Homo sapiens: one gene and its partners. The protein of the gene in region 3 interacts with the protein of the main gene of each other region in a biochemical or structural test. Each region holds a gene or a part of one and is shown on either strand. Other genes may lie near its edges.

Region 1 (7,027 bases), on a different chromosome or scaffold from region 3:
TAGATTAGATTATTAGATTAACTACAGAAGTTTTATCCGCCTGACTGACAAATCAGGTAGTAGTGGTCCATTTTAGTGGGCCTCTAAAGCAAGTCAGCATGCTTCTGTTGTTGAGTTCCACGAAGGCAGAGACAGTGTTGTCTTTTTTGATCATTGCTGTCTTGCTAAAGCCTGGCACAATGCTTTGTGCTTAGTAGATACTTAACAGATATGTTTATGTTGGAACTACAGAAGCAGTCCATCTCAGCTCTGGTATTTTTAACAAAACGTCGTGCATGTTAAAAAACAAACAAAAAACTTATCAGTGGAAATAACAAGGATAAGAATTAAATTACCTGGAATATTTAATGGGTTGCTTTTCCCTTGTTATGTCTTGGATCAGCTATGTAAAAATTATACAGTAACATCATAGGTTCTAAGGAGTAGAATAGCTGTATAACAGTTTTTAAAATCAGAGCAAACAGTAAGTAGTTAAGCTATTAAAAAACTCCCAAAAATATGCCCTCTACTATTGAGTGTTGGTTTTTCTATTTTGAACCCAATCGTATTATTGGCTTCATAAGATATTCCTCTTATTATCAGTAAATGCGGAAATAATGTTGGGAATATTATGAGTGGGAGATTTGTTTGTTTTTGTTTGGGTATTCTTTAACCTGTATTAAAATAGAAAAGGGCTTTTGAAATATTTATCGGTAGAGAAAATTTTATTTTTAATTCATTATAGTAAGTCAGTGCAGGGATATATAAAGAAAAGTTAATAATTTCTCTATTCCCTGTTTCTCCTGTCCATGTATTTTTCACAATTTGGTGTGTATTCCATATTATATGAATATAGGGTTGAGTGTGTGTGTGTGTGTGTGTGTGTTTGAAAGTGGGGTATGCTGTTGCATAAAACTCTGCAACATGTGTTTTTTCACTTAACAAAATCATGGATGTATTTCCAGGTTAATGCATATCAATCAAAATGGTTTCTAAACTACATGGATATTATTTTGTATTATAGATGTACTTTATTCAGTCATTTCTTTGCTGATTATTTCCAGTTTTTTGCTGTAAAAATGGTGCATTAAATGCACTAATACCTGTAGCCTTATGGGCTGAAGCTTTTGTATATGTAGGATACTTTCTGGGCCAAAGGATGATTTGGATTATTGTTAAGATTTTTAAACATACTGATTACTTTCCAAAATGTTGGCACATTTCCACAAGCAGTATGTATGAAAGTGTATACCTTCACATCTGTACCTACATGTTTCAAAACTAGTCGTTTATATGTCTGTGTAATCTTAGAAAGGTGTCTGATTCAGTAAATAGAAACCATGCATTCTATTTTTGTCACAACAATAATTAGTGTTTAATATTTGTTCAGTAACCACTTAGATCTAAATGTACTGACATGAAAATGTGTCTATCATTTTGTTGAGTAAAAGAAATATGCAGAATTTTACAAGATGGCGTACCCCATTTTAAAATACATTTTTCACCTTAACAGTGGTGAAAATGGTGGTGAAAAATGGTATATTTTCACAGTGGTGAAATGGTATGTTTCCCCAGTGGTGAAAACTGGTATGTTTCATGTTCAGGAGATGAGGTTGAGAAATCCTTTATTAAAGCAATATTAAGCATATTAATATTTTTAAGGAGTCAGTTGAATACATGGCACAGTTGTTAGTGTTTACTATGCATTTAGTAAATATTTCTCTTGGCAGCAAGGGTAGTTTATAGCTAAATTTTACATGCACTAATATCCTTCCTCTTTCTCTGATTTTTATTTTATCAGTCTACCTGTACATACCTGAAATAAGCTAATAATACCTTAGAGAAAATCATGGTCTTTGGAATCAGGCCTGGGTTCAAGTTCTAGGTCTACCATTTACAAACTTTATAACATTGGCCAAATGAGTGAATTTCTCCAAACCTCAGTTTCTTTAATTTTTTGCATGGACATAATGATAATGACTCTGCAGAGTTGTGAGAATTAAGTAAGAATTATAAAAAGTAGTATAGATCATTACATGGTTTACTCTCAAGTGTTCTCAAGAAACTTTTTCTAAGTAAATGAATTATAGTATTATAAGTTAGTATTACTAGTATTACCAGTCATTTATATCTATAAATTCTGACTGCAGTGCATCCTCTGAATGTAATTCATGTATCTTATTCAGAATATTAAATTATAATTAAGCGAGTGAATACTGCAGAGCTACATGGTACAGCTGATAACCATGTGGAGGAGGCACGACGGTGGAGAGGGCAGGATGGTGTGGTGGTTAAGAGGGGATCTCTGTAGTTAAAACAGTCCTAGGTTCAGTACAGACTTGGCTGTGTGACCTGGGCATGTTACCTCTTGAGTCTGTGTCCTCATCTGTAAAATGAGGATAATAATTAACTATGTTATAGGATAGTAGTAAGGATTAAATGAAATTGTATGTAAAATATTTAGCACATTGCCCGGCATATGTCAAGTACCCAATAAATAGTAACTCACAATTGTATTTCTTATTAGTTTGCAAATTGTTGATTATGTGTTAAATGCCTGTTGTCTAAATATGTGGTACTTTTTTTCCTTTAAAGGCAATAAAGATCTTTTACTTACATATGAACTTGATTCGAATACTTTCTGTAAAATGTGGAATAAAGTGAATTTTAATTGTCCCGGTAGTTGTATACAAGTTATAGAATATTACCAGGATTTTTTTTTTCATTTATGGGGATTGTAATGTTAAGTGGGCTCATGTTTTCAGAGTTTGAACCAGACCAGCATTTCCTGTCCTTTTTTTTAGACTCAAGAGTTCTCTAAGTAAAGCAAAAGTACTGTTAAATAATAGGGGAAGAATTTTTTCCCTTCCAAAGTTAGGTAAAAATATATTCCTCACCTTAACAATAGTATGTTTCATGTTCAAGAAATGAGACTGAGAAATCTTTTGTTAAAGCAACATTAAGCCTATTTAGTATTGAATATAATTCTACTGCAAATACTTTTGACTGAAATGTATTAATATCAGTCAACTATGGGAATATATTTAAATCTAGACAGTATCTTCTTAGAATAAGAAAGGGAAGACCTGTTGTGAGTGTTGGTGGCTACAGTGTTAAATGTTTTCTGCCTTTGTTTACTGAAATTAGTAAGTTTGAGTAGTTTTCCTTTAATTCTGCTTTTATGGTTTTTATTTGTAATTTTTAAAGAAACGAGCAAGAAAAATGTGTGGTGTGGTGAGACAGAGCCCTGGTATTAAATCCGAAATAGTGATCATTTCTTTTATTTGGAAATAGTTTCTACTATATGAATGTTTGTAATTTTAAGATACATTTTCAAAATTAGTTATCTCACATTTAATGAATGTATGATAATTAGCAGGTACACAAATTAGTACAACTAAAATTGGGTCACAATTTTATGATAGTCTTTAAAGCATTTGAAGTAGAAATTTGGGATTGTTAGAAGTCATAGCTTTAACATAAAATAGAAGGAGCAAAGTATGTACAGCTACAACCTTTAGTTAGAAGAGGGAAAGAAATTAGGAAAATCAAGGGAGAAGAGCACAGAAGAGACAGTAATTTGAAGGTGACTAAGTGATTACTTTTACCCAGGTTTGAATGGGGAAAGAATTTAGAAGAATTAAAAATTGATTAGAAGAGTCGGAAGAATTCAAGTTAAGAAGTTAATAATCTTTAAATATTTTTAATGTAAGAGATTACTTTTCCCCCTTGTGTTTGGCATCTGGTTCAGAGATCAGGTAAATAATCCAGACCAGTTTTAGTCTCAGGACCAAGTTCATTCTTAAAAGTTTTGAGTTCCTAGTGCCTGGAAAAGGGAATAAAGTTGTTGTGATGTTCAGAATCAGTTAATCTAACTAGAAAAACTCCCTTTCCTGAAAGAACTGGTTAAGGGAGTTTTCTGTGATGCAGGAGACTGATTATAAATGTGTTAGAACATGCCAAACTGGAATGGGTAACAAGGCTTCTACTTTCACTAAATGTAATACAGATAGCTAAGTGAGAAGACTGTAGTGTGTGGAAGTGATTAATACTTTACTGTAATTAACAACTTCCTCTTCCCTTATAATAATACACTTGTTTTAAATATATATTCTTTCTACGGGTTCAATGTTGTTATATAGAACTTTTGCTTGAAATATGGTATATAGTAAGGTGATAATTTCAGTAAATAAATTTCTCCAGTCATATTAAATGTCTGGCTTGTGTAATGTGACATTGACAGAAACACTAAAAGCCAGGCTTAAAAATACTGTAAGTCAGATTTTTTTAAATGGGTGAAATCTTTATATGTATAAATAATTTTTGTCTTAAGCTGAAAGCTGGTTTGAGAATAAACTTTATTGAAAGTTATTACCAGTTTTACAGTTCAGCCCCTTGTTTCTCTCTAGGACCTAGCACGTGTCTTACACATTCAGATAATTCATTTGAATAAATTGGAAAGTTTTTTGTTTTCTTTTTAAGTAGAAGAGAAATTAGAATTCTTTAGGTTAAGTCTATTTGAGGGTAAGAAATGGGCTGTGATCTTTTGAAATATCTTCTAATACACAAGCTTTCAAATTTTGCAACCATAAGTACAATTTTATGACATTATTTCTTTCAGTCCCTAGAATAGTGTATGGGAAGCACTTACTATGTTGTTAATCTGGCTGGGCACAGTGGCTCATGCCTGTAATCCTAGCACTTTGGGAGACTGAGATGGGAGGGACGCTTAAGGCCAGGAGTTCAAGACCCAAGACCAGCCTGGTCTTCAAAAAATGTGTGTGTGTGTGTGTGTGTGTGTGTGTGTGTGTGAGTGATAATCTGCAAGTCCTGTATTAGGTTGAGCTATATGAAAATGCCAATAAACTTTGACTTGAAAAATCTATAGGAAGAACAGTTTCATGTGATTCAGTCTAGTTCCAACATTGATTTGGAAATCATACGATTGCTCTTTGCGCTGCTAACTGTTGATTTAAAGTAGAGTAAAAACGTTGTTTTGTGTTTATAAATTAAGTGGTTCCTTTATATACCATTCTGTTTAATATCAGAGTTCTGAACAAGTAGATCATTAGTAACTTACTTGATCAGTTAACAGGGAAGGGGACTTTAAGGGGAGAAGAGACTATAGTGATGTTTAACTTAAATTTATAAAGATTTTTTTGTTTGACAATTTTCAGATTAATACTTATTGGATTTTTTTTAAATTATACTTTTAAGTTCTAGTGGATATTAAGTGAAATATTGGAGTTGTGGTATAAATGGTTTCTTATATTTCTGTGGATAGCACATGAGAATGTGTAAGCATCATTCATCCAAGAGAATTTGTGTATTTGATCAGTTTGTGAAATGCAGTTTTATTTTGACTTACTGTAACCAACATTTGTTTGTATTCAGTGTCCTTTTCTACCTTTAAAGGATATCAGTCATCCGTTTGAATTACTTGTATATGCTTTCCTTCTGAAGTAACAGAGATTTCTTTGTTTTTAGTGCCACCATGGCAACTGCACCATACAACTACTCTTACATCTTTAAATATATTATTATTGGTAAGTTTATTTAACTTACACTCTTGTTCCCAAAAGAAGGTTAACATACAAAATATTTATATGTTAATACTTAAACAGTACCACTTCAGGACTGAGTGATTTTCTTACTGTAAAACTAAAACTCCTTTTATAAGATTTATTTTTGCATTAGCAATGCAGCTTTTGCATTGTGGCCATGGATATTTCTGTGGTACAGTGCTGGTGGGTACCTTGTGAAGTGATGTTCATTGTTCTTGAGGGCTGCTTGAAAGCTTTTTGATGCTAGGAAGTATCAGTGTTTCAAGGAGTGCAGAAACATTCCTAAAATACTGTGAAAGCTCTCAGATTCCCCTGGGTTTCTGTTATAAGGAAAAATTGGTAGAGAATATTGTTTGATTCCAAATCAATTGTGTAATATATATAAAATATAGTATTTTTCTTAATTGGTGTTTTTTTCCTTAAGTTTCAAGAAGGTTTTGCTCAAATTAAGTCTTAATGCTATTTATCCAAACATAAAACTACATTTGAAAGTACACGTTTTTCAATGAATTGTTCACATTAGAACAGTTTGCTTTCATGTTGAACTTAATGTGTCCTTTCTAATGTTTCCTTCATCAAGGGTTAACATTGCTATAGTACAGTCAGAGATGACATCTTTTCTCCTGGGGTTTTCATGTAATGCAAATTCTTTTCTTTCATAGAATAATACAAGAAGTATAAGACAGGGACCTAGTGAATCAAGCTTCCAGAACTCAGTTTGTTATTTCTGCTTGTTACATGCTACCCCATTTGTCAGTTTTTGAAATTTGTTGCTTTTATGCATGAGTTTAAGGAAAAAAACAAAAGAAAACAAAAACATAAAATTTTGAAACAGCTCAAAGTAAAAAAAATTCCATTAAAAAAATAAGCACTTCCCAGCTGGTGGCTATTTATTAACAGTAATAATTTACAGCCAAATTCTGTCACTGCTAAAGATTGGGAATAATATTCCATTTGTGTCTCACAGTGAAAACTTTTGAATCATTATAAAGTAGGAAAATAAAAATTTGTTAAGTGTCCCAGAAACTTGTGATATGTTATATGGTAAGGAATATAGCGATCATTGCATAAAATTGAGAAATGTAATTGCCACCTGAAACTTCTTTTTTTTTAAACAGGGGACATGGGAGTAGGAAAATCTTGCTTGCTTCATCAATTTACAGAAAAAAAATGTAAGTTCAATACATGAGGTAAACATTAATAGTTTTCTTTATCGCCATGTTTCTACTTTTTAGAAAGTGTCATTTTCAGTATACTTCATGCATTTAAATATAACCTTTCCCTATATTTGTACTTTTTTTAAATGGGTACAGATAAAATGAAATATGCCAGCATATTTTAGGGTTGATTTTTATACACATTATATAATCTGATTTGCTTGTTTTGATTTCTTGATGTTAAAATAATTTTTAAAAATACATAAAATAATGTCAAACTTAATCTTTTTATTCTCTGACTTTCTGTTACAGGAATTGATTGTCTTA
Region 2 (7,027 bases), on a different chromosome or scaffold from region 3:
GCTCGATTTCCAGGCATTCTTCCCTTATTAAGTATTCGTGTAATATTAATAGTCATGAATATCTGCTATTAGGAGGCTCCAGGAACGCTGCCCAGCGCGGTTATTAGAAGCTCAAGCGAAGCCGCCGCTAAGAAAAGAGGGGGAGACACGGATTAAGGAACACGCACGCACCCACACACTCACACATACTTTTTCCTTTTTCCTTTTTTGGGGTTTTTCATTTTTAAAGAACTTTGAATCATAACCAGTCGCGGCAGGATAGAGACCGTGGGTTCGACCAGCTGAAGGCGCCGCGCGAATCGGTGGTTCAAGTTCGGATGGATCCGAGCCGGGCTCCCGCGCTCCGGGGAGCGTCGGCGCCGTGACTGGAGTCCTGGGTGGCGCGGGGCTCTCGGCGCCTTTTGTGTGGGGCGCGCTCGGGCGGCGGGGCAGCCGGGCGCTCCAGGCTTGCTTGTTTTTTTCCACCCTGACTCGTTACCCCAGACTCTTCGCAGATGTTAGTTCACAGTTTTTCAGCCATGGTGAGTCCCATCCCCACCCCCGTTGCTGTTTCTTTAGGAATTGGATTCTGGAAACCTGGTGCCGTGGAGCTGCCCGAAACCTCGGGTTTCACGCCCAGCTTTCCTTCAGGACACCCTCTCCATTTGCATCCCCCACCCCACCTTCCGCCTTTCTCTCGCTCTTTTCCATCCCTAAATCGAGTGCATTACCCCCTACCCCAGCCCCCGCTCGACCTCTCCGAGCACGCAGACCTACCTCGCCGCGGCTTCCCAAGGCGTGTTTCTCCCCACGTTCATCTTGATTTCCTTGAGTCTTCACTTGTCCCCGAGATGTTCTCAACATTTGATGCTTAAACTGTCTGCAGGAAAAGTGCAGCGCGGTGTGCCCCCTACCCTCGGGACCTGCGGCCGAACCGCCGAGGGTTCGCGGTCTCTGGAATCAACTCTCTTCGCTTGTTTTGCAAGGGAATTGCAATAGAGAAACCTAAAGTCAGGCGTTTCTTCTGCCCTTTGGGGCTGGGGTGGAAGGGGCGGGGGGGGGGGGCCACAGCCCCGGGGTGCACCTCTCTCTTTTAAACCCAATAAGGCTGAATCTTTCTATTTTAAACCTTGACTTGACGTCCCCCTTTCCCTATCCAAACCATAAATCGACTCTGTCGAGAAAAAGGCTCCTAACAGAGGAAGCGAAAAAGACAGACCCCGATCCTGCAGTTAAAACCTTCTTTAAGCTGGTAATTTAAACGTGTGTTTTTGTTACAGCCCCTCTGCGAAATATGTTTCTATTTAAGTAGTCATGAAACGGTAACAGTCTTTGAACGTTTATGATTTTTTTCTCTCCAAATAAATGGAAGAGAATAAACAATAACGCAGTGGCAGACAGGTTCAAATCGGGGGAAAAGAAAAGGCCGCTTCTGCTGTTTAGTATTTAGGAGGAATTTTAATTTTGCTTAAGAGAGATTTCACGCTGCAGTTTAATGGGCTGTGTTCCAGGAGACCCTTTTCTATCTTTTCCTCTCTTTGAAAGAAACCCCTAAATAGTCTCTTGTGCCCCCTCCATATACAGTTTCTCTGCGTTGTTCGGTCTGTTTCACTTGAGGGTATTTCCTGAAAAGAACTTAGAGCTGATTTTTTCCCGGCGGCCAGCCAACGGGAACGGGCGATTTCCCACGCAGACTTGTCAAGTGGATTTTGTGTGGATAGTTGTAGCTCGACGCCTGATTCCTTGTTCTTTACCTTTCCTCTCGCTCTCTTCTAGGACCGTCACGACGGCACCAGCAACGGGACGGCACGGTTGCCCCAGCTGGGCACTGTAGGTCAATCTCCCTACACGAGCGCCCCGCCGCTGTCCCACACCCCCAATGCCGACTTCCAGCCCCCATACTTCCCCCCACCCTACCAGCCTATCTACCCCCAGTCGCAAGATCCTTACTCCCACGTCAACGACCCCTACAGCCTGAACCCCCTGCACGCCCAGCCGCAGCCGCAGCACCCAGGCTGGCCCGGCCAGAGGCAGAGCCAGGAGTCTGGGCTCCTGCACACGCACCGGGGGCTGCCTCACCAGCTGTCGGGCCTGGATCCTCGCAGGGACTACAGGCGGCACGAGGACCTCCTGCACGGCCCACACGCGCTCAGCTCAGGACTCGGAGACCTCTCGATCCACTCCTTACCTCACGCCATCGAGGAGGTCCCGGTAAGAGGCCGCGCAACCAGCGCGGGAGGGAACACAGCCCCCTACTTACCTACCCCAGAAAGGATACCTGGAACATACAGTCGGTGGGCCCGGGTTCTCCCTAGTATTTCCTTATAAAAACATTTTATTCGGAGGCGGAGAGTGAGGGACGTTTTGAGGAACCACACAAAGTAGTTGCGAGTTCTACCCCAGAACAATGGTTTCTGGAGCTCCCTCAAACAATGCCTGCATTACCATTTCCACCAACACAGATAAATCAGACGAATGTCACCATTAACAATATCTTCCTCTCGACGACAGTAAACTGTCTCAATTGCTAAAAGATCTACTTCCATCGCTGAGTCTGGCGTGGAGATTTCTCCCTGTCCTGGGAATGATGTTAAATGCAACCAAAAGAGCTCATTAAATGTCCTCAAAATGTAAAAGGAAGTGTAAAAGACACACTAAGATCATTTTAACCGGATTTTATAAGCACAAGTGAAACCTAAAAGTTATGTGTACACCCTATCCTGATTAAAGAAAAACTAAGTAGCAAATCCAAGCAGAGGGACATTAAAATGCAGCCTTCTTCTTACTAGGGGTGCTAAGTGGTGACCTCATAAATCATTAGCTAGGTTCCCAACGCCTATCAGAACCTGCTACACTCCATATTAAATTAAATGTTTCGAGACTATTGGGTAATACATTATTTGAGTTCTAATTTAGTTATCAATAAATGCAGTTTAAAATGATTTCTAAATAAGCATGGCATTAGCACATTTACTATTTACAATGCAAACCAGGCTATTGATAATTTGAAAATACTTTCTGGAATTAAACTTAAACCAGTACCTCTGCTTCAATTCTATATATTTATGGTTTCCTCACAACCCTCCTGAAATGGAATTAGAGCAAGCCAATAATTTTATTAAAGCTGTAAAGGCTTCTGTTAAAGCTGCTTTTCTTTGGAGAGGAAATGTATCTGGATGTGATTTTTACTAAAATGCTATTTCAAATTACTGCATCAAATATTGCAGCAGTATGTCCGTTGACAGTTTAATGATTACTACATTAGATTGTAAGGAAAATGGTCAGATGAACTTACCTCCTTGCTTGGTGAATTTAAAACATTATTTAAGTTCCGTAGGAAAATAGAAAATTTATTACATCTCTCATTTGGCCCAGTTAGTCACTGAAATTTGTTGGTTATGTTTAGCAGCCCTTGCATGGAAGGCAGGAAAGTGGGCACTTGATCCAGTATAAGGTTTAGTGAGCACTGTATGTCTGTATATGTGTGTTCATACTTACATGTTTTTAGAAACTGATACTTAACAGTGCATTTTTTTGGAAGTGAGAGGAGCACTAATTTATATAAGAGCAATTTAAACATGAACTGGGAGTTATGATTATTTTAGTTCCCTTTCCCAAAGCACTCTGAATCTTTTCCTTGCTTGTTCTTTGAAAATATTTGAATTGCAAAATAATGTTGCAAGCTTTTGGAACTACTGTGAATGAGAATTGCTCTACTTTGCAAAAATTTCAAGGTGAATTCTTAACACCTGTATACTCACTCTTTGTGGCAAAATTGGTCAGTAGGAGAAACTAACTAAAAGATTAAACAAAAACAAGGAAACCCAGTTGCTGTTTTTCCCTCTCCCTCCCCCATCTTTTAAGAAAAAAATTCTTTCAAAGGAATTTGGGTCAAGAAAAAGGTTGTTTTCAATTTTTTCCCATTGCTGCAACAGTTAACCTTTAGTAAGTATAACTGCTAAATATTTAAGAAAATCAAATCGATGGTGAAAATTATTTAATCATTAATATCTCAGTGGGGTTTTAAACTTAACAGTCTTCCCTGTATGGACAAGGTCTAGAAATAACACAAATAAAAGTATTATGCCACACTACATTTACTTTATGGGTTTAGGGTGCATGCATAAAGGGATCATATTTCCCCATATAGTTAAAACACAAGAACTGCAGCAGTAGTCATTTCTGAACATTTCTCAATTTAATTATACTTAAATCCAGAAGCACTTTAGGCAAGTTACAAATGAGAGCATTGAGTATAATAAAACCTGTAATAAAGCAACTTAGTACCATCCACCCGGAATCATTGCGATCAGGCACAATTAACAGGAGCATAAATCCAAGACAGAATGGAAAATGTTCGAATCAGTATTATTGTTGGACAAAGACTAGAGAAGGAAGCAATAGTTTTTTAAATGGTAATGCCTGTGTTTGGTAATGATTGCAAAATCTTCTATCTCAGCAGCCCTGGTGCTAATTTGTAAACACAGCCAGACATTATATTGCCTGTCAGTTTCTGCATTAGAAAACATGACTTCATTTTACTTTCTAATCACGTTTTGACTCTAGTGCGCACACGTATACCCATCCATCTGTAAAAAAAAAAAAAAAAAAGAAAAGAAAAAGAAAAACACCCCACACTAACAACAAACCTGCTGTTGGACAACAGGAAAGCAAGCTCAAAGGTTTTTTGGTTTTGGTCATTTTCATATTCCTATCATACCCAGGCTTAGGCAGTAGTCTTTCTAAAAATTTATGTGGAGTTTTCCATAAAGGTGTGTGTGTTTGCTCTTTATTATACTACCTAAACCTTTTCTTTTCCAACACTCTCCTGTTACTCCCGCCCCTGTCATTTCTATTGTGTTTCCCTGGCTTTCGCTGCCTGAACACTGGAATTGCTAAAGTCAGAAGCCGCTGAGGCGCCAATCTAAAGCTAGGTACATTTCTAAATGTTGAACTGACTGAGAATGATTAGGTGCTCCAACACTTGATTTAATTTCCAAAGAAAGTTTTATTCCCCATCTCCACCCCTTTTAAACATGGATTATTTGCTGGAGGAGGAGAAATTGGCCATGGGTGTGCAGTGAAACCTCTTGAGTTGCAAAGCCCCAAATTCCAATAAGCCAAGATGAGATGTTTATATATAAATGTCATTATACGGGAGGGGGAATTTTGATTCTACACCTTCCCCTCCTCCCATCTTGCAGGGAATATTCATTTCCTTTTGTTTTGATGATACACTTACATCCATGTGTATCCTTTTGTTGCAGCATGTAGAAGACCCGGGTATTAACATCCCAGATCAAACTGTAATTAAGAAAGGTAAGCCATTTCCTTCTGCATTCCAAGCATGTCCTTACAGGCAGAGTGCTATTTAAAAGAACTTGCAGAGATGTGTTTATTTTTTCCAAATAGGATTTCCTAAAGGCTCAGAATTAGCAAATAGATAGGCACAGAACAGCAATGCTTAAATAATCAGCCTTCAGTATGTTGGTAATGCCAACAGGCTAGCTTTGTTCTGACTCATGATTTGACCATTTAATTTAGTTTAATGATATTTGGACAAACACACAAAATGTACAGTAGTTGAACTGATTTGGAAGTGGCATTTCAATTTTGAAACAGTTTGATAGTTTAATCCATTGCCTGGATGAAGGTTAAGAAGTGTATAATGCTAAAATAGTACAAATAATTTAACATTAATGTAAGAACAGATGATAAGAAGCACTCTTTAGTAGAGGAAAAAAACATTCATGTTCTTCAATTTAGTTTCTTGTTAGCTGTTTAAGGGTCTTAGAACTTTGTGAATTAGGTTAACAAAATTTTAGCTTTTGGTTAAAATTAGTATCTTGAAGATGGGAGGAATATTAGCATACTTGTTCAGAGGAGAAATTGTTAGAAAAGTGTCAAGTGATTTGCATGGATTTGTAATCTGTATTGTGTTTAGTGAGTAGAAATAAAGTTTACTGAATTAAATGCTATTCACTCTTGGTAGCAGCTTTTTTTTTGGTTATGGTGGCAATGTTACATTTCAGGATTCTAGGCACCACCAGAGGACGATGCTATATAAAACTGTTCTCATTTCTAACCCCAATCAGTATATTGTTAGCTAGTTTAAAGTTTCATTTTTGCATCTGTGAAGTCTTTGTCACGTCAAATTAGATGTGCAAGGGATAAATCTTAAGAGATGCTCTTTCCAAGTCGACATGATAATTGGCTCTTTTATTAGTAATCTCTCAAGAGTTCGTTTAACTCCTATTGTCTCTATTAGCCTCCCCAGAGCTATTAATGTCACAAGTGATCTATCCAAAACCTAGAGCCCCCCACCTCCCTATACCTCTAGCATATCCCCATTAAAGAACGCATAAGGAACACTGTGATGAGATTGTGTGCATATGATGTCTCCAAATGGAATTTTAAAATACAATGCATACTGTACTTAAATGGTTGTGAATGCATCTGAATTACACTGGTGCTGAGAAACGTAATGCATTAGTATACTTTCTGCAGGTCTTCTATTTTTTTTTTTTCTAACAGTGGTGAGTCCAGCAATAAAGAGCTTATGGTTTTAACTAGGAAGTATATATACCCACTTTCCCAATAAAGGCGCTTTAGCAGAGGACTGTTAAGTATTTACTTAACAAAAGGGCACATTGCTAGTATTCCACTGTAGGCCTGTTCTTCCCTCCCCACTCCGCAGTTCAAAACTGGCCTTGGAATGGATCTCCAAAACTGAGACGTTTTCAAAATTGAACATAGGAAAGGGCCTATTTATCAAAAAGACGGGACGTGTGGTGTGGACAACAAAATCCACCACTTCCCAGCGTGGTGCCTCAATTAAAACGCTCGTTTACAGGGTGCTTTAGCCATCTAAATTGTCGGCTGATTTTAATAATGGGTCTTTGAAGCAGTTTTTCCCCGACACTAAAACCCCACCCAGCAAAACCCCTGAAGTACAAGTAACTTGCTCTCGGTTTGCAAATGTAATTCCCTCCCCTGCACCCTGAACCCGTGGTCCTGGACCTCATCTGGGGCCCACTCCGCTCGGATG
Region 3 (7,965 bases):
CTAGTGGGGATTTAAAAATAAATGAATCATTTATGCCTCCACTTGGCCTGCCTTCCAGCCTCTGGCTGCTGACTCACCTATACAAAATCTTCCTTCCCAGCCTCATCTATGTTAGGCAGGCCTGTTTTTGCCTTCGCAGGCCCTAAACACTGTCACTTGTGGAGACTTCAGCCAACATCATAATAAACATATTAAAATGCATCCACATCCTGCATTAAACATTTATATTTTTGCTATAAATTTTTGAAAATGCTTTGGTAATTTTGCTTTTGAAATTATTTGTCTGTGCATAACTAATTTAATTTACATGGCTGTGATTTCTCCATAAGAATTACATGTACGTGGGAATTCTTGGGAAGTGAGAAGATCCAACCTAAAAATCGTCTTCAAATATAATGGGTTTTTAAATGCATAATAAATTTAACTGTTAATGAACTTGATATACTGTTCTATTTTGTATGCCATTTAATTATTATTTTTGAATTTGTCATTTTAGTATTTTGTAGCCTTTACTTAAAAACAAATTTTTTTAGAGACAGAGTCTCCTTCTGTCGCCCAGGCTGGAGTGCTGTGGCACAATCATAGCTCACTGCAGCCTTGAACTCCTGGGCTCAAGTGATCCTCCTGCCTCAGCCTCCCGAGTAACTGGGACTGTAGGCACATACCACCATGCCCAGCTAATTTTATTTTATTTTATTTTTGTAGAGATGGGGGTCTCGTTAGATTGCCCAGGCTGATCTCAAACTTCAAATGGTCCTTCTGCTTTGGCCTCCCAAAGTGCTGGGATTGTAGTTGTGAACCACTGTGCTCGGCTCTAGTCTTTTTTAAAGATCCTGTTTTTTTTAATTTTGTTTCTGAAAAGCCTGTAAGTTCTAGACACTTAGTGATAGTTGCCTAATAGATAAAAGACAGGCACTGAGCACCCACTGAATTTGTGTGTGTTTGTGTATGTGTGTACACGCACGCATGTGCAGATGGTGGTGGTAAAGGTGGTGAGATTCATGTTTTCTTGAAGCCAGAGTTTCATTTATTTGAATTTTATTCAATTGTCTTTTAACTCTTTGCATTGGAAGCCACTTATATGCAACCATCATTTCCCCTGTGAGAGACCTCAGTTTTTAGTGTCCTTACCTCAATATATTTTAATTTCCACACAACCTCTTATTCTTCACTTAACAAATATTTATTGAGTGCCCACTATGTGCAATGCACTGTTTAGGTGCTGAGGATACTGTAAAGTTGGAGGAAGAAGTATCTCGCCTTTTCCCTAAGGCCGATTCCGCCATCTACATCTTGGATCTTTGTCCCTCTCAATTACTGAGGGATTTTGCTTGCAACCTTACTGCCTCTCTCTTCTAGCATCTTAAAAGGCCCCCTCTGGCCGGGCGCGGTGGCTCACGCCTGTAATCCCAGCACTTTGGGAGGCCGAGGCGGGTGGATCATGAGGTCAGGAGATCGAGACCATCCTGGCTAACAAGGTGAAACCCCGTCTCTACTAAAAATACAAAAAATTAGCCGGGCGCGGTGGCGGGCGCCTGTAGTCCCAGCTACTCGGGAGGCTGAGGCAGGAGAATGGCGTGAACCCAGGAAGTGGAGCTTGCAGTGAGCCGAGATTGCGCTACTGCAGTCCGCAGTCCGACCTGGGCGACAGAGCGAGACTCCGTCTCAAAAAAAAAAAAAAAAAAAAGGCCCCCTCTTTGTTGGTTCCTTCCTCTTTGCTTTAAAGTGGCTTCAGGCTTTGTCAACAACCTCTGTTTGACCCTTCTAACTAATTTAATTAAAATTGTACTTCGTTCCTTTTTATTTCCAAACCTCTTCAATCTGTGGTCTCTTGTCTCCGTTTTCTCACAATACAGTTCCTCCTCAATTCCCCATAATCTTGTTTCTATCCTCACCACTTATTGAAACCAAACAATTATTGGTCTCCAGTGAACTCCTTGACACGTCCAAAGAAAGTCTCTTTGGCCCTCATTTTCTTGTCCTATTTTCAGCATTTGATACTGCTAACCTCCCCTGCATATTCCTTCTTTATCTTTCGTTTTCATTGACTGCAAATGATTTTCAGTGCAGGAAAGTACATGGAATAACAGAACCAATATATGTACCCACCACCCAGTTCTATCAAATCTTGCAACATCACTTTTCAGATTCTGTTTTGAGAAATAAATATTAGATATATTTGATATTCTCTGTATGCCTCCCCCGAGTGTCAATCCTCTCCCTCTCTTAAATTTGGTGATCATGCCCTTTCATGTTTTATATACTATTACAGTACTACTCATCTATGTAGCCATAAGCAATAGATGATATTTTCAGACTTTATATACACAGTATACTGTACATGTTTTGCAATTTGCTTTTCACTCAACATTATATTTTTGAAATTTAGCTGTTACTACCCATAGCTCAAATTCATTCATCGAGAACACCATTATTTATTCATTCACCTGCTGACATTTACTTGGCTTCCATTTTTGAGATTACAAATAATACTGCAATGAACATTCTTTTATATGTCTCTTTGTGCATATAAAAGGTAGAGTTTTGCCAGTGTCTATATCTAGAAATAGAATTTCTAGATTGAGGGGTATTGCCTTTATTAGACATCGTCAAATTGTTCTTCATAGCAGTTCTACCAACTTAAACTCCTTCTAGCCGTAAATCAGAGTTCCACTGCTAGAACTTCAACAACACTTGGGGTTGTCTGACTTTTTAAATTTTCACAAAACCGATGGTTGTGAAATGGTATCTCGTGGTTTTACTTTTCAATTTCCCTGAATAGTAATAAAGTTAGGCATCTTTTCATGTCTTTATTGGCCATCTGGGTTTCCTTGACTATGAATTACTTACTCAGATATTTTGTCAATTTTTCTATTAGGTTTCTTTCTTATTTATAGGAGTTCTTATATATCCTGGATACCAAGTCATTCATTCATTTAATCAATATTTTTCTAGCACCTACTTGGCTCCAAGAATGGTTCTAGGCACTGAGAATGCAGCTATGATCAAAACAGACAAAATCCTTGCACTCATGGAACTCAACATTCTAGCGGGTGAAGGTAAATGACCAATAATATTGATAAATAAAACAGAAGTGGTAGATAGTGATACATAAGCAGGGAAGAGGGATAGGGAACATGTATGTGTGGTGATGGAGAAGGGGATTGTTGAATTACAATTTTCAATAAAGTGGTCTAGGAAGGCTTCAGTGAGAAAGTGACATTTGAGCAAAGACCTGAAGGAGGTGAGAGTGCATGCAGAGTGAACAGCAAGTGTAAAGGCCCTGAGGTAAGAGTGTGCCTGGCAAGTCCTAGCAACAACAAGGAGTCAGTGTGACTAAGCAAAGCTAGTTAGGGAGAGTGGTGGGAAATGGTGGGAGATGTCCGAAAGGTGATGACAGCTTGTCTTTTTTTTTTTTTTTTTTTTTTGAGACAAGGTCTTGCTCTGTCACCCAGGCTGGAGTGCAGTGGCGCCATCACAGCTCACTGTAGATGTGACCTCGCTGGCTCAAGGGGATGCTCCCACCTCAGCCTCCTGAGTAGCTGGGACTGCAAGCACTTGCCACCACATCCAGCTAATTTTTATAGTTTTTGTAGAGACAGGGTTTTGCCACGTTTCCCAGGCTGGTCTTGAACTCCTGGGCTCAAGTGATCCTACCACCTCGGCCTCCCAAAGTGCTGGGATTACAGGCATGAGCCACTGTGCAGGCCAGTTTGTCTTTTAACTTGTTTATATTGTCTTAAAGTACATACATTTTGAAATTTCATGTAGCTAAATGTCTTATTCTCATTCCATATTCCAAGCTCATACTCAATTTTTTTTTCTGAAAGTTATAAAGTTTTGCTTTTCACATTTAGATCTTTAATCCACCTGGAACTGATTTTTCTTCCATGGTTTGAGGTAGGGGTCTAATTTTTATAATTTTCCATATGGATAAGCAGTAGTCCTAGTACCACTTAGTGGATAATCCATTCTTTCCCCACTGATTTGAAATGTCCCACACGCTGCATATCAACCTTCCGTATATGTGTGGTCTGTTTGAGGGGTTTATATTGTGTTTCATTGATTGTCTATCTCCACAGCATACTTTTAATTACTACAGATTTACAGTCACTCTTGATATCTAGTGTATTATAGATTCTGGAGCAAATGAATAACACGATCGAAAAATTACTTTGGGAAAAATATTTTTATGGCTGTCAACAGAGTAAACATGTCAAAGGAAAGAGTAAACCCAACAGGATTTATTTAAAGAAAAGTGCAATAACCCAGATAGGCTATCACAAGGGCTTACAATAAAGTTATGGCAGTGTGAATGGAGAGAAAATAAGGAATCTAAAAGTAATTCCACGTAAAATATTAACAGGGTGTGTTGACTGATTGGATATAGAGATGAGGAGGGGGAAGACGATATATGGCTTTCCAGTGAAATGATAATGAGTTAGTTTTGTGACGCAGTGATGTGTTAACAATGGACTCTATTAGGTAAGAGGTCTGGGCCAGGGATATATATTTGGACATTGTCTAGTTAGAGGTGAACTGGAGGGGACGCAGAGGAGGAGCAAAGGTCTGGGCTTTGGGGAATTCTCCGATTTAGGGCGTGGAAGAAAGAAGAGGAAAGGAAATGGTAGGATAACCAACACGGGACATTATAACCTTAAGAAATATATATATATATATATATGTATTTTTTTACTGAATGATGTGGGTCGTATTGACACAACAGGTTTGAGATCTCCCATAGGTATGACTGTGTTTTGTTTCTGTGGCCTTCAAAGTCCTCAGAACAATTTTGATGTCACAGGTGGCATTTAAAACCCATTCCTTGCTGGACCTGGTAGAGACGCCCCCAGTCCGTCAGGTCTCTCGCTGCAGTTCCGCAGTTTGACCGCAGGGGACGGAATCTGCGGCGGCCTGGAAAACTGGCGGGGGCGCGAGGCGCCGCTCTCTCTTGGGTCAGATTCTCAGCTCCCAGCTCCCCGCTCCCGGCTCCCGGCGCCCGGCGCCCGGCGCGGAGCTGTTCCTCAAACGACACGCAGCCGAGGTGGGTGGGTGTGGGGACGCGGGAGCCAGTGTCGTCGGATCGGCCCGCAGTCCGCTGTCCTGCTGAGCCCGGAGGCCGCCTGGATGGAGCCGCCGCTCCCGGTCGGAGCCCAGCCGCTTGCCGTATCCGCCGGAGAGAAGGGAGAGGGGAGGCCGCGCAGGGCCGGGGGTGGGGGTCGGGGGCCCTGCGGAACACGGTGGGGCGGGGCAACCGGGTGGCCCAGAGGCCGAGCAGAGAGGGGGAGGGGGCCGGCGCGGGAGACGAAGCAGGGCGGGGCGGGGCGGGGGAGGGCGGCGGTGGGGGGGGGGTGGAAGACCCCCTTCGCCCCGCAGTGCACCACTCCTCCCCACCGCGCTTCCGAAGGAGACCCTTGACTAGCGCCCGCATACTGTCGAGGGTATGGAGATGAAGGGTCCTCTCCGGGAGCCCTGCGCCCTGACCCTAGCCCAGAGGAACGGGCAATATGAGTAAGTAACCACCTGATTCCCACAGAGGAGGGGAGCCTGCCATTACCTCCCAACCCCAAACCGCGACGGGTCACCCACTGTCCTCCTACTGAAGCCACGCGGGCAACAGGTTCAGGTCCAGGTGTGAAGTGCCAGTGCTCTCTAACCTCGGGGCTTTGTCCCCAACTTCCAAGCCTCTGGATTGTGCTTGGCAGTGTGGCTCAGTGGAAGGACTGAATGGGCGGGGAAGCAGGAAGCCTGGGTTCTTAGTTCCTGCCCCTGCAACTGACATGTGTTGTGTAACGTTGGGCAAGTCAATAAAGCTTTCTGGGCCAAAGTTAACTCTTCAGTTTAATAAAACCATTAACTGCCTTACCTTACAGCCTTTGGAATTATAACTGGGGGAAAAATAAATGCGAGAGTGGCTTCCAAAAAGTAAAAGTGCTATGGAAATGCTTCATTGTTAACGTTACAGACTTGTCTTAACCCTATTCAGCTGGTTTCTCCAGTCTCCCCGTCCCCTTATCCCACTGGGTTGAAGGCATATTCATTAATTCAGTAATGGTTTAGTGTAGGCCAGAAACTGCCTCACTTACTGACTTTACTGTTAGAAAGAAAAGGTAATGAAATGTGTAGAGATAGAAATGACAGTATTTTATCAGTGTGTCACCTTCCTCTCTGCCATAGGAGCTCCGTAAATACTGTTGACTGATTGATCAAAAGATTATTTTGATAAGCTATCACCATAGCTGCTAACCTCACTCTATTGTCACTAATATCTTATCTCAAAAATATCCATGGTGACCATTACGTATCATAGGCCCCTATCCCTGTGTGCCCAAGACACCTCACTTGGATATTCATTGGCTTCTTGACATCATATTCCTTCCCAGTTTAAAAATTGTTCACTTAAATCTTGCCATCTCCCAACATTGGCTTCTGCCTAAAACCAATTTTCTCAGTCCCCACTTTTAGATCCTCTGTATCTATGCTGTCAGATTTACACGGAAGAAATTCCCACTGGCCCAACCTGCTCTTCTCTGAGACTATTGGTGCCACTCTAACTGGATGTCAGCTAATTCTGTGAAGTAGCTCTTTCATAGGTCCTGCTTAGTCAGCTCTACTGGGAAGTTCATCAAACCCGGATTTCATCAAACCCTGGAAGACTAGTTTAATGAAACTAAACTAAATTCAGAATTTAATAAAACAAAATTCAGCAGAAAAGTGGAACACCACTAACATTTCCAAAGGCTAGAGTGGGTTACAGAGAGGTGACCCTTGGGCAAACCAGTAAAACTTGTGTGCCTTGGTTTCCTCTAATGTAAAAACAAAATCATGAAGATTGAATAGAGTAGCTACATTGTTGAGATGACCACAGCCCAGAATCTAGTCCCTCGGATTAGTAGATTTGGAACTCTGTTGAGCTAATAAGGAAGTCGTGTGTTCCAATTCTGTGTAAGTTATGGGGGTATAGTTGGGGGTATATGTGGGGGTATGGGGCTGCTATATAACTAACATTAATATATAGGTAACACTATATAACAACTATATAACTAACAACTAATATAGTTGTTGCTATATTAGCAGTTTATATATAAACTATGTAAATAGTTTTAAATATATATAAACTATAGTTTTAAATACATATAAACTATAGTTTATATATAAACTAACATATAACTAACAACTAATATAGTTGTTGCTATATAACTAACATTCAATGGCTGCTTATGTGCCAGGTACTGTTCTAAGCCCTTTTCATTAGTTAGTTCATTTAATCCACATGTGAGGGTTACTATAAGATAGTAATATCATCATCCCCCTTTTATAGATACAGAAATTGAAGCACAGACAGGTTAAGTCACTTGTTTGCAATTAGGGAGTAGAATACCTGAGATCTGATCCTATGTAACATGTCTCAGAATTACACTGAGAAGTTTCTCTTGAAAGCATTTGCTGGAGACACCTAATACCATAATACCATCTGTAATCCTCATATTCTTGTCTCTCTGGTGTCTTTTCTGACTCGAGTGTCCAGAACTTTTTACTTTTGGCTTTTTTATCCTAGAACTTGAAGCCTGACTTAAATCTTTAGGTCTGTGGTTCCTACTGTCAACCATAGGAAATTTGCTTGACCAAAATTACAATTAAAAATCAGGGTTTTTTTGGAAACAGGGAATCAAACACTTAAGATTCATATTTTTCAAGGATAATAGATTATGACAAAACCTGTTTGACCTTTAACCTTCCTTGAACAAATCAAAGTGTTTCCTAGGGATAAGGCAGAGTTGGCATTCAGGATTTGTCACTCTTTTCTGTTTGACAACTACCAAATTCTGAATTCCATTGTTTTGCTGTATACCAATTATTTCTAATCTTTATATTCTGAAATGAATAATTACACTCAGAATTTTTATGCTTATTCTTAGCCCTACTCTTTTATTGTAATTTAGTGGGTAACACGTAGTAAATACT

The links. Proteins that work in one complex are often made in the same cells at the same time.
Region 1: the proteins of OCRL (region 3) and RAB14 form a complex in vitro, tested with the Homo sapiens proteins (one study listed by BioGRID and IntAct).
Region 2: the proteins of OCRL (region 3) and TFAP2A form a complex in vitro, tested with the Homo sapiens proteins (one study listed by BioGRID).

Annotation. Positions count from the first base shown.
Region 1 is NC_000009.12:121,191,859-121,198,885, reverse strand, and holds part of RAB14 (ras-related protein Rab-14), read left to right. Parts: intron 1-5,466; 5' UTR 5,467-5,473; coding exon 5,474-5,525; intron 5,526-6,661; coding exon 6,662-6,715; intron 6,716-7,027.
Region 2 is NC_000006.12:10,405,064-10,412,090, reverse strand, and holds part of TFAP2A (transcription factor AP-2-alpha), read left to right. Parts: exon of another isoform or gene 1-494; coding exon of another isoform or gene 495-521; intron 522-1,755; coding exon 1,756-2,190; intron 2,191-4,163; exon of another isoform or gene 4,164-5,246; coding exon 5,247-5,298; exon of another isoform or gene 5,299-7,027.
Region 3 is NC_000023.11:129,535,313-129,543,277, forward strand, and holds the start of OCRL (inositol polyphosphate 5-phosphatase OCRL), read left to right. Parts: upstream 1-4,946; 5' UTR 4,947-5,127; coding exon 5,128-5,166; intron 5,167-5,428; coding exon of another isoform or gene 5,429-5,431; coding exon 5,432-5,511; intron 5,512-7,965. UniProt on the Homo sapiens protein: Catalyzes the hydrolysis of the 5-position phosphate of phosphatidylinositol 4,5-bisphosphate (PtdIns(4,5)P2) and phosphatidylinositol-3,4,5-bisphosphate (PtdIns(3,4,5)P3), with the greatest catalytic activity towards PtdIns(4,5)P2.